Linked DNA regions of Homo sapiens: regions 2, 3 and 4 are each reported to be linked to region 1. Evidence: microRNA targets listed by miRTarBase, many of them from high-throughput screens and not tested one by one. Region 1 holds a microRNA gene; each other region holds the end of a gene's coding sequence.
Evidence for each region. The annotated mature microRNA hsa-miR-15a-5p reads UAGCAGCACAUAAUGGUUUGUG and lies in region 1 at 1,730-1,751, shown strand. An mRNA with a match to its seed (bases 2 to 7 or 8) in the 3' UTR can be bound and repressed. Matches are read on the target gene's strand: a 7mer-m8 pairs with bases 2 to 8, a 7mer-A1 pairs with bases 2 to 7 and ends in A, and an 8mer does both.

Region 2: the mRNA of CDCA4 is a reported target of hsa-miR-15a-5p. Seed matches in the 3' UTR shown: 8mer at 2,189-2,196 and 7mer-m8 at 1,731-1,737.
Region 3: the mRNA of SPTLC1 is a reported target of hsa-miR-15a-5p. Seed matches in the 3' UTR shown: 7mer-m8 at 1,813-1,819 and 7mer-m8 at 1,816-1,822.
Region 4: the mRNA of CYLD is a reported target of hsa-miR-15a-5p. The part of its 3' UTR that is shown has no 7-base or 8-base seed match.

What each region holds. Positions count from the first base shown.
Region 1 is chr13:50,047,754-50,050,917 of GRCh38, reverse strand. MIR15A (microRNA 15a) reads left to right here and starts at 1,717; the gene lies at 1,717-1,799. DLEU2 (deleted in lymphocytic leukemia 2) reads left to right here. Exons shown (of 14, transcript NR_152566.1): 6 at 1,256-1,334. MIR16-1 (microRNA 16-1) reads left to right here and starts at 1,857; the gene lies at 1,857-1,945.
Region 2 is chr14:105,008,541-105,011,704 of GRCh38, forward strand. CDCA4 (cell division cycle associated 4) reads right to left here. Exons shown (of 2, transcript NM_017955.4): 2 at 1,033-3,164. The coding sequence ends at 2,664. Among named protein-coding and RNA genes, the nearest start is that of CDCA4, 11 kb to the right of the region's middle.
Region 3 is chr9:92,029,885-92,033,048 of GRCh38, reverse strand. SPTLC1 (serine palmitoyltransferase long chain base subunit 1) reads left to right here. Exons shown (of 15, transcript NM_006415.4): 15 at 491-1,902. The coding sequence ends at 584. Among named protein-coding and RNA genes, the nearest start is that of ROR2, 81 kb to the right of the region's middle.
Region 4 is chr16:50,796,141-50,799,304 of GRCh38, reverse strand. CYLD (CYLD lysine 63 deubiquitinase) reads right to left here. Exons shown (of 19, transcript NM_001378743.1): 19 at 1-2,981. The coding sequence ends at 2,797. The region is part of intron 2 of CYLD-AS2 (CYLD antisense RNA 2); the gene reads left to right. Among named protein-coding and RNA genes, the nearest start is that of CYLD-AS2, 5.6 kb to the left of the region's middle.

The DNA of each region.
Region 1 (3,164 bases):
TAGGACTTTGGGAGGCCAAGGCAGGAGGATTGCTTGAGGCCAGGAGTTCAAGACATCCTAGGCAACATAGCAAGACCTTGTCTCTACAATAAAATAAAAATGTAAAGAGCTGTGCATGGTGGTGTGTGCACTTGTAGTCCCAGCTACTTGGGAGGCTAAGGTGGACTGATCACTTAAGCCCAGGAGGTCAAGGCTGCAGTGAGCTACGATCATGGCACTGTACCCCATCCTGGGCAACAGAGTACCCTGAGATGAGAAGTAAAACAAATCCTGTAGCTCTTGATCTTCCTATTCCCTACCTATTTCCGGTCCATTTACCAGGTAAGGAAGTATACTCCTAAAGTTTCCACTTACTCAGATGTAGAAATGAATTTCTTTTTCTCTAAAAGATACGGAAACTACTCTCTTAAAAAAAGAAAAAATAAAAATTTAAAAAACGTTGTGCAGAAACTTGAGACAATAAGGAGCAGAGTTATATGTGAAATCCAGGTTGCTTAGATAGGAGATTAGCTACATATATTTTTTATTAATGGGAAAAATACTCAGAAAAATTTCATATGGAATGTGACCCTGTGCTTTGTATAAGTAATTAGATATTAGAATGGAAGAGCAAATTTTAGTGCTTTGGTTGTGTACATCACCTTACTATTCTGTAATAGATGTAACTTTAGCATAGTCATTTTAATGATGAGAACATGGGGCAAAAAAGATTGTCCAGGCTTGAATGGTGGCACCACTAGAGTGGTGGCAATTTTCTGATATCTTTTAGAGAAAAGGAATTTCATTTCTACATCTGAGAAAGTGGAAACTAGGAGTTTCTTCCTTACCTGGTAAATGGGCCAGAAACAGGGAATAGGAAGATTAAGAGCTATGGGATTTGTTTTATTTCTCATCTCAGGGTACCAAATTAACTCATCATCCCAAGGATTCATATTTTAGAATTACTTAAGGATTCATATTTTAGAATTACTGTATCAAATGATATCCAACTCTAAGAGAACTTCTAGTATGAAGATCAATGTTGAAAGTAAAATATTTAGATTATTAATAACAAATTATTTAAGGGAGAATTAGTTTGTTTAGAGCTTTTTTTCTTAACTATATTTGGAATTAAAATGTCTTAATTAGATATTTAATAAAATTAACATTTAGAATTAAAGTATTTTTCTTTAAAAGTATATTTGCATTTTGCTAGCTTAAGTTTATTGAAACTGAGCTCTTGTATGTCATTTCATGTTTTTCCCTTGATGTGAAGTCTTACCTATTTGATGAAGATGTCTTTTGAAAGGTGTACTGCAAGGAACAAAATGTTTGTAAATTCTCCTTTTACCAAGGTAAAGATCAAATTTTATAAATTTACTTGTTTGTTTATACAAGGAAAAATAACTTCATATATTGAATATATTCAAAAGTTTAAGCATTTAGTTGTATTGCCCTGTTAAGTTGGCATAGCAAATAAATGCTTTTCTTTTCCTCATTTTATTCTTTGTGTTTCCTAACCTATAGCACTGTGCTGGGCACAGAATGGACTTCAGTTAAGTTTTTGATGTAGAAATGTTTTATTATTCTACTTAAAATCTCCTTAAAAATAATTATGCATATTACATCAATGTTATAATGTTTAAACATAGATTTTTTTACATGCATTCTTTTTTTCCTGAAAGAAAATATTTTTTATATTCTTTAGGCGCGAATGTGTGTTTAAAAAAAATAAAACCTTGGAGTAAAGTAGCAGCACATAATGGTTTGTGGATTTTGAAAAGGTGCAGGCCATATTGTGCTGCCTCAAAAATACAAGGATCTGATCTTCTGAAGAAAATATATTTCTTTTTATTCATAGCTCTTATGATAGCAATGTCAGCAGTGCCTTAGCAGCACGTAAATATTGGCGTTAAGATTCTAAAATTATCTCCAGTATTAACTGTGCTGCTGAAGTAAGGTTGACCATACTCTACAGTTGTGTTTTAATGTATATTAATGTTACTAATGTGTTTTCAGTTTTATTGATAGTCTTTTCAGTATTATTGATAATCTTGTTATTTTTAGTATGATTCTGTAAAAATGAATTAATACTAATTTTTCAGATGTATCATCTCTTAAAATACTGTAATTGCAATTTAATAATTGTATTGAATGCCATCAAGTTTTTTTAAAAAGCTTATGCAGCATTAGAGGAATTTATTTTAATGCACATTTATATTCAACATAGACATTAATTCAGATTTTTACTTGGGATAAAACAAATTCTAGTTTTCCCTTTGTTTTGAAATTACTTTTAAAATATGTCTTTACAGATAAATATAAAATATATTAAGCATTTTGAACAGAGCTTAGAAGACAATATTTAGTACTGTTTCTGAATATTTCTTTATATCTGAAGGGGAAAAGCCATCAAAATATGTGAATTAAATACCTAAAATTCTGGTTGTCAAAACGTCACACTTAACCATAACTTTAAAGGTAGAAAAACCCTTACAAGTGACCAACCCACTCATTGGATAGCTAAGGAAACACAAAACTCAAATAATTTGCTACACATCACAGATTGGGGTCTTAGTCTTATGTCTTCTAACTTTATAATGGTATACTATTTTTTTCATGTTTTTATTAAAATGTTTTCTTAAATCCTTAGCCAAAGATTTTTGTTTGATAAGTCAAAAATAAGGTCTTGTTTACTTTGTTTACTTTTTTGTATTCAAGATTTAACTCAGAGTAAGACCAAATTATCATTGTAGTTTTATTGATATAAAATGTCAACATAATTTAATTTTTTTTTTTACTTTTTTGTATTTTTAAAATTTTTTATTAAAAATAAAAGTAGACAGCCAGGTGCGGTGGCTCACGCACTTTGGGAAGCCGAGGCAGGCGGATCACCAGGTCAGGAGATCAAGACCATCCTGGCTAACACGGTGAAACCCCATCTCTATTAAAAATACAAAAAAAATAGCCAGGCGTGGTGGCGGGCGCCTGTAGTCCCAGCTACTCGGGAGGCTGAGGCAGGAGAATGGCATGAACCTGGGAGGCGGAGCTTCCAGTGAGCTGAGATCGCACCACTGCACTCCAGCCTGGGTGACAGAGGGAGACTCTGTCTCAACAAAAAAAAAAAAAGAAAAGAAAAGTAGAGCTGGGCACAGTGGCTCAAGCCTGTAATCCCAGCACTTTGG
Region 2 (3,164 bases), not on the chromosome of region 1:
GAATTTGTATTTCTGTTTCTGAATAAACATTTTGTAAACAAAATTATTAAACACTTGGAAAATTTCTTCCCAATTAAAGTCAATTTGTACCTACAGACTTAAAAATACCACATACATGGCCAGGTGCGGTGGCTCACGCCTATATTCCCAGCACTTTGGGAGGCCGAGGCAGGTGGATCACCTGAGGTTGGGAGTTCGAGACCAGTCTCATCAACATGGTGAAACCCCATCTCTACTAAAAATATAAAAATTAGCCGGGCGTGGTGGCACATGCCTGTAATCCCAGCTACTTGGGAGGCTGAGGCAGGAGAATCGCTTGAACCTGGGAGGCAGAGGTTGCAGTGAGCCAAGGTCACGCCATTGCACTCCAGCCTGGGCAACAAAAGTTAAATCCTGTCAAAAAACCAAGAATGCCAGGCGCGGTGGCTCACGCCTGTAATCCTAGCATTTTGGGAGGCTGAGGCAGGTGAATCATGAGGTCAGGAGTTCGAGACCATCCTGGCAACACGGTGAAACCCTGTCTCTACTAAAAATACACCAAATTAGCTGGGCGTAGTGGTGGGTGCCTGTAATCCCAGCTACTTGGGAGGCTGAAGCAGGAGAATCGCTTGAACCTGGGAGGCAGAGGTTGCGGTGAGCCAAGATCGCGCCACTGCACTCCAGCCTGGGAGACAGAGCGAGACTCCATCAAAAAAAAAGAAAAAAAAAAAACAAAAAAAAACAAAGCCACACACACGGACTAAACTTGCAGAGAAATGATGCTTGGAAAACAGCTGATTACTCAGCCACTGCGCACCACGGTGGAAACAAGCAGGCTTTGGTGTACGGTGTCACAGGTGAACACGGCGAGTCCAGGGAATGAGACTCCGGCTACACTTCTAAGTCACAGCAGCTGTTCTCTCCTGTCTGTGGTCCTTCCACAGACCCAGTCTGTTTTCCGACCAAGCACCCCTAAAGCGCTCAAAAGTCACATTCTCTGAGCAGTTTATAATTTTGAAGGCTACCAAAACAGGCACTACAACTACTACTAATGCTGAACAAATGATGTTTCTAAAAGATAAAAATGCTATACAGAAACAAAATAGTGCTTTAGATTTATTCCTATAAAACACATACCCTTTAAACTAGGGTCCATGAGGATTAACTTTCGACATCGGGGGCTGTCAGAGGTCGTGGACACCCCCAACTCCAGCCGGGCGCTGAACAATGTAAAAAGAATTTGCTCTGCAACCCTGTGGGGGGGGGAAATAAAAGTAACCCAGCGTCCATTTAATGCAGCCAAGTGCAATTCCTTTCCCCACCTTAGAAAGCACCACCAGATAATACAGCAGAACTGATCCTGCAGAAAGGTTGCTGGAGGGTCAGGCCGTGGTCGTAACTAACACCACATTCCCATTTTGTTTGCTGGATAATTTTTTAATAAAGTGAGGTTTACATCACTGATATTTAAGAATGGCTATATGCACAAAAGAAAACACACCTTTTTGGTTAAGGGGTGAGGAAGTTAGAGAAAGCATGAGAAACAGGGAGCATGTGGGGTGAGGCGGGGCAGGAGTGGAAGGCTGCAGGCACCCCCAGCTCACTCCCTGCCTGCGGCAGCACCCATGACACTACAGATCAAGGGGTTATGAATGACATGGATTCAGATTTCTTTCATTCTAGACTTCAACCTAGCCTTAACCTTTTGTTTCAGCACCAGTCTAACAGAGCAGCGCAGGCGTTTCTCATCCAGCAGCAATGCTACTTCCTCACCCAGGGCAGGTGCATGGGCTGACCCTGATGGGAGCCTCCAGGAACACTGCCTTGAGAAGGCACCACCGAGGGGCTATGAGGTCCCTGAAGACCAACTGGTGCCTGTGATCTACAAACAGACAAATATTTGACCTTTGTCTTCAATGACATTTACATATAAATAGACATAAATAAAATCCTCCATAATTTACTCTTAGGTCTAGGAAGATGTGGCTGTGTGCGGCTCCTGATTTTCACCCAGGTCTCACTGCAGCGCAGGACATAATGAAGAAGTATCACACACACATTTAAAGTAAAACATGATACATTCACACTGTTGACTGAGACTGTAGTGATGCTCACTGCAAAAAACAAAACAAAACAAAAAACCCTTATTTAAACCTTAAAAAAATGAAACACACCAACTGCAATTGTTTAGGCTATAAAAGTTCTAATGTAGCAGCAAAGGATGTTTATAGAAAAAATATACTTTTAAGAAAATAGCTGAAAAAATCTAAAGAGATAAGGTATAAAAAGTTTAAAAAATATATCTTAAGACAAAATACTGCCCAAAACATGTAAAACTGAATTGTAAAAATTCACCTATCTAAAGGTAAAAGGAGGTTGATGCAGCTGCGGCTCACCGTCCTCTACAGTGGGGGACACAAAGAGACACGAGGGGCCCAGGGCTGTGGGGACGTCAGAAGACAAGAAGCCTTCCAGAACAGCCTCTGCCTGGCGCTCCACAGGGGGGAGGTGAGTGGGACGGGCCTAGGGCTGCAGCCCCACTGGTAATGGGCTGTTCTGGGATTTCTCAGAATCAGCAGACAGGGCAGCAAGGCTGGGCCGCTGGCGGCAGGCGCACCCTCCGTGGGAGCCAGTGCTCACGTGTCAATGCGTCAGAGGCGGCTGTGAGCACTCAGGGCTCCTGCTCAGGTCTCCACCAGGATCTCCACCACGTGGTCCAGCTCGCCCAGGTCGGACTTGCAGCTGGAGCTAGGGCCTGGGGTGGCCGGAGCCAAGCCCTCGAGCCCTTCGCAGGGGCCCGGCCTGGCACCCCCCATCATGCCTGTCAGTACTGTGTCCAGGTCGTAGTAGGGGCTGTCCACGTCTGAGAACAGCTCTTCCATGCAGCTGGGGTTTTTAGTCTCCAGCGTTTCAAATATCTGATCAAGTGACTTGTGAAAGCTTCCTCTGTTTTCTCGAGGGCCATCCATCTCCCAGGCGCTGCTCTGCAGGTGCCTTGGTGCCTGTGCTGAGGTGACTGGGCAAAGGTCAGAAACTGGACCCTGTGTGTGGCCGTCCCCCAAGCCAGGAGCAGGATGTGCCCCCTCTTGCCCCCACGCTGCACGGCACAGGATCTCCGTGGAGACCAAGCGGTCGAGCGGCGCCCGCTCTGCAGCCTGGGGTGCCACTGTGCGCCACGTCCCATC
Region 3 (3,164 bases), not on the chromosome of region 1:
CAGGTACATGAATAGACAGGCCTATTGGGAGGACTGCCAGGAGAGGTTTGTTTACAAAAATAGGCAGTGGATTTGGCTCTCAGGCCATATATGGTTGACTGTGAGTGCAGTTCCTCACCTCACATAGATAATTCTTTTTTCTGTTTGTTTGTTTTTGGTTTTTTTTTTTTTTTGAGACAGAGTCTCACTCTGTTGCCCAGGCTGGAGTGCAATGGCGCGATCTCGGCTCACTGCTAGCTCCGCCTCCCAGGTTCACGCCATTCTCCTGCCTCAGCCTCCCAAGTAGCTGGGACTACAGGCACCCGCCACCACACTGGCTAATTTTTTGGTATTTTTAGCAGAGATGGGGTTTCACTGTGTTAGCCAGGATGGTCTCGATCTCCTGACCTCGTGATCCACCTGCCTTGGCCTCCAAAGTGCTGGGATTACAGGCGTGAGCCACTGCGCCTGGCCCACAAAGATAATTCTTTGTGTCCTTTACTGTTCTCAGCATTCGGGTTGTGGTCACGGTGGAACAAACAGAGGAAGAACTGGAGAGAGCTGCGTCCACCATCAAGGAGGTAGCCCAGGCCGTCCTGCTCTAGGCAGAGTCCCGGGACCATGGCCTCCTGCCACACAACACGCAGAGAGGACTCAAGACTCCCGCTGGCCATGGAGTGGCCTGAAAGAGAGCAAGAACATGTGGATCTTTGATAGGATTGTTACCAAATGGTGTCAGTATGGACCAATTGTGTGACCATGAGAAGGATGCTTATTTTTTTTAAAAAGAAAACACATCTAAAAGCCCAGGAACTGATTTTTTTAAGAGGAAAACTAATGACAGTGTATAACTGATGTTTAAATTGTGCATTTAGTACTATTTAAATGTTTTCTTATACTAGTATTTTATATTCTTTTGTTGTCGTTTAAAACTGGAGCTTCAGTGTCTCTTCCCTCCCTCTAATAGTAATGGTTCAGTAAGCACTCCTTAACTCCTTAGTATTTCATAGAAAAATGACTGCAACATTAAAGCTAAGAGGAACACTTCAACATATGTGGTACAAATTTATATTGAAGATCTAAATAAACCACGTATTTTCCAGTCTTCGTTGTGTGAAGCTAAATGGTGGCTAAAAGGAACACTTTTTGTGTGATTATTATAAACTTTGCATTGTATTTGAATCTTAGAACTTTTGTACACACTAAATATTGATGTCACACCATTTCTAATCTGAGCATCCTTAGCCAGAGAATATTCATTATACTTCCTAAGTGAGCAATAATTTAAATCAGAAGCTATTTTATTTTAATGTAATTAACCTTTCTTTACATTTCTTATGTGTTCACCTCTAATCTGTTTTAGGAAGAGAGTTGGTTATTATGTTGATCCCATAATATAAATCATATCCTTTATATTTTAGAATATCTCAAATGTATTCCTTTTTTGTATGGTGGGTTTGCCTAGGGACGTGTAACTACAGGCTTTTACTAAGCCAAGGAAAAAGAGAATTTTTCTTTTCATCTTACAAATTCCAGATATCTACAAAAGATGTGAAAGCACTAAAAATACCATTTTTAAGCAGTACTTTACCTGTTTTTTCTTTAGCAAACCAGGTTATGTGGTGTAAAGGTTTGTTATACGTGCCACAATATAGCATATAAATATTATGCCATCATTCCTTCTCTTGTTAAAGGTAGAAGAATAAAATTGTGATTTTTATAACCTGTGCTTATTACTCAAATGGTCTTCAACATCTTTTTAAACAACACATACTTTTTGAATGTTCAGTTTCTATTTTGCTTGAGGTATTTTGTACATATGTGCCTTGTGATTGCTGCTGCTTTAAAGGATAAAGTACTCTTTGGGGGATGAGTCTGGTTTGTTTTGTTTTATTTTTTAATGAAATAAACCTATATTCCTGATTATTAGTCTATTTGCATATGTAATATATCCAACAGAATAGTCTCTTAATTTTAACTTTTTTGCACTGGGGTAGTATTCTTTGTTGTTTGGTCTTATTTTAGAAAATAACAATTAAATTTCTTAGTTCCTTTTTTCACATCCAACCAAAGAATATATAGTATCTGAAGTTTCCTAGGTTCTTGCTGACCTCATAGGACTACAAAAATATCATGGCCATTATTTTCATAAATAACTGTTCAGCTTCTTTTAGAATACTTTCTAAGTGAAAATAGCAACATCAAAATAATGTTTGTAATAAACTTTTTGAAAATATGATCAGGAGTTTCTGGGAAAGATGGCGGATCAGGCACATTATTTCAGTCCTTAAAACCAACATTGTAAACGAAAGGAACCAAAAGTAAAATTTTTGTGTTAAAATTATAGAGTGACCACAATCCAGTAATATACACCACGATGAAATGTCTACTAGAAACAGTAAAATTTGGATCAAACTGAAGCAAAATGCTGAGAAAGTACAGTCATCTCAAATCTGGACCAAGTTACAAATTCCTCTTTTACAGAGTGAGAAGTTTCCAGAGTGCTCTACCAATGATCTGTGTTTTAAAAGGCAGTGGCTTGGGGTGAGCAGTGTAGAGACCATTGGGAGCCCATTTCCACTCAGCAGGACTGTCCGCAGGGAAGAAGAGAACCACACCACCTTTTTATTGTCTGTGACTAAATTCTAACTTCAGGAAAAGTAGGGCTTTGGGGCAAGTTGGGACAGAAAATACACCAGTTATTTCATCAAATTCAGTACTTCACTAATTGTACCATGTGTACTTTTTTTATGTACCACTAGAAGAAAATAATTCTATCTGTATTATGCTGTAAGATGTCTTCCAATATTAGAGATATTACAATGTGGGTAGAGAAGATGTATCTTTAAGTCTATGAAATAATAATCATCTGATGTGTGGGCCTCATGCCATCTTTCCTTGTGGGCATAAAACCTTAGTCCCAGAAGATAGAGATGTCCAACATGTAAATCTGAATATCTCCATGCATCTTTCCAAAACACTGTCCCTATGATGACATCAAATAAAAACATTCATAACGTACACCTAACAGTATGGGTTAAGCTATGGAGGATGCTTAAACTTCATTTCCTTACTTATTTCCTGGTGAAGAGGAGTAGGAAGCTTAAGGATGATGGAACACAGATAAAATAACTCATCTCGACAGCAACATTTTCTAGAGATTTGAAGGAAGAAGGAAATGTGAT
Region 4 (3,164 bases), not on the chromosome of region 1:
ACACACACAGACACACACATATTTATTTGGAGGTGAGGAACATGACATATTTTCTACTTGTAATCATGAATCATGAATCACGAACCGTGTTATAAATAAGATAATTCAATTACATTGTCATCTTGATTGTAGATAAGGAATAAAAGATAACCAAAACCTTTAAATAGCCAACAGGAAAATATTAAAGAAAACTTAAGGCTGAAAATTAAATAACCAGCAGGCACATAAGCCCCTGTGCCATGCAGCCCAGCCCCAACTATGTGCCTCTTGACAAACCAGGCTGTGCTGAAGCACAGAACAGTAGGGGGCTACCCAGAGGGAGCCAGGACAGACAGGTGCAGGGGAAACCTTCCTGCTGCCTCATGACATGCAGAAGCAGGGAAGGACGCAGCCTCCCCAGGAACCACCAGAGCTGGCCCTGGCATCCCTTAATGAGCACTCCCTCCCCAAGTAACATTAAAAAGACGTCAAGCTCCACCTGAAGAAGACGTTGCCAGAAATCATTTATGGATGAGGCCCTCCCATTTAACAGTCTCCACACCTGACTTTTGAAACCAGGTGTCCATCCAAACAGGTCTTCTTCAAGTTCTCTACCATGACAGCCTGGGTAGCAGAGCTTCCTCAATTTGTATTTTGTTTTAATTTCTACAGGAAAGGAACTGTCTTCTCTCTCCTTTTTTTTTTTTTTTTCCAACTGTTAAATCCAGTCTTACCTAGATCGTCAGCCCTTAGTATCTGCAGGGGTTTGGTTCCAGGATCCCTGCAGATACCAACATCTGAAGATGCTCAATTCCCTGATACAAAATGGTACAGAATTTGCATATAACTGACACACATCCTCCTGTATATTTTAATTAAATAATCTCTAGATTACTTATAATACCTAATAAATGTAAATGCTACATAAAGAGTTCTTGTATTGTTCAGAGAATAATGACAAGAAAAAAGTCTGTACATGTTCAATACGGATGTAACCATCCTTTTTTTAAAAAAAATCGTATTTTCCATTTGCAGTTGGTTGAATCCATGGATGAGAAACCTGCAGATACCGAGGGCTGGCTTCATTTAGATTCCTAATCATTCCTCCAGGTAGTCAATTTTTTAAAATCACATTGACAAGCTCATTCACCCATTTCTTCATTCAACACATATTTATTACAGGGTGATTGGACTTCTAGGCTGTCAGAGCTAGAAAAGGCCTTATGCATCTTTTACCCCACACCCTTCATTTTACCCAAGGGAGATGGAGGCAGGGCTAGCCCTAAACCCAGAGTCTCTCAGCCTCACCCCTGATCTAATCATCATCTCACCACCCCAACCAAGCACTTAGCAGTATAAAACCTTGTGCAAAATATATGTACTTTTTCACTTCAAAAATGAAAATATTACAAGATGAGTTTTTGTACCTTACTGTAATTTATAAAGCTAGTAAATATTAGCAAAATGGAATGATAAAACCAAAGAGTAAAAGTGCCTTTAAAAAAGTAATTGCAGGGTTTGTAAAGATTCTTTCCACTTTTTGTCACATTAAATATTTTATAAAGTCATATGACATATACATATGATGACTTTTCTGCCTTTCTGCACAGTTAGAAAGTCATTCAGGAAAGACAATGATACCACAAAACAACACTCAGAGAATGCACATTCCACAGCACTGACATGTATCATCTATGGTCCTGGTCTACAACATCCGCTGTGGTCTAAACACACACTATGGCTGTTATTAAACAAAACATCCCATTTCTACTTACTTTAATCAGAAGGAGGATGAAGCTGCTGCTAACATTTCGATAACATATCTGATTCTATCAAGTGAAACTACACTGAATTTAATGGGAGTACTGGCTGACAGATCAAACTTAAGTTCTAGACAGTCTTGTCTAAAATAATAGAGGTTTAAATATCCATCTCTCCCAGGAAATTGTAATAATTCTATATGCCAAATTCATTTTCTTATGGACTGTATGTTTGTAAAGGACTATTATCACTCCAATTCTTTCATCAATTTACTTTGCCCCATTCCATAAAATATTAATAGTTAAAAGCCTTAAAAAACCTGTTAGCTGACAGTAACTACTATGAATGAAGAGCTTCAACTGCTAAATACCCTAATCCTCCAGGAAAATCACTTCAAAAATGGACATTTGGGGACAGAATCACTCATTTATCTCAAAACCAGAACAAATAGAAAACAACACCATTAAGGGAATTTAAGTATTTTTCTGACCACTATTGCAGAAACACAGAAAAACTGAGCAGATTGTAGACATGCAAGATCAGCAGTATATAGAAAGGATTAACAAATCAAACTCAGTACATCTCTAATAACTGGATTGAGAGTAGACTCTTAATAAAACCAAATTATTTCTTCCTCAAGGCAACCGTTAGCTACAAAAGAAAAATGATTTCATATCCTTGGTCCATAAAGAAGACACATTTATTTACATTCTCAATGGACTAAAAGAGGCTTTAAACTTCCACAATTAAAATTGTATGCTTCCAAAAATATCATATGATCAATGCACTTAACTTAAAGCTTCAGGTATTAATAACTTCATTTAGACTTCTTAAAAAACCAACACAAACATACTTTCTAGAGTGCAAAATGCTTCTTATTAAATACTTCAGGGACACAAAAGCAATTTGTTTTTAAACAGAGGCATCCTTTTCTGAAGGATCATCACCACAAAGACATCCATTGCCGGCAATGGACGTGAACAGAACTGCCAGCTCGAATAAGATGCAACGTTAGGACTCTGCCTTCAGTTTCTTTGCCTTTCCCGATGACCCCAGTTATTTGTACAAACTCATTGTTGGACTCTGGTACATGCACATATATGCATCACAAAGCAGTCTTCGTGCACAGCCTTGGATTCTCCTGGAGTCCAAGGAATGCAGGTCTTCCAGAGACATCTTCAAGTACTCTCCTACTTCTGGGCATGGGGTGACTTGAGGAATGTTGAAGCCATTCTGACCACCTATGGCACAGAGGAAGAACTCTTTATAGGGCAGTCAAGTTCTAAACCCTTTTGCCAGTGATTTTATAATCCTATCATTTCCAAAAAGCTAATTTCAGGCTCTAAAAGCCTTTATTTTACTTCTGATTTCTGGAAGTGAAAGCCTCCTTTAACCCTTGACATATTCTCATTTCTTGGTTTCTG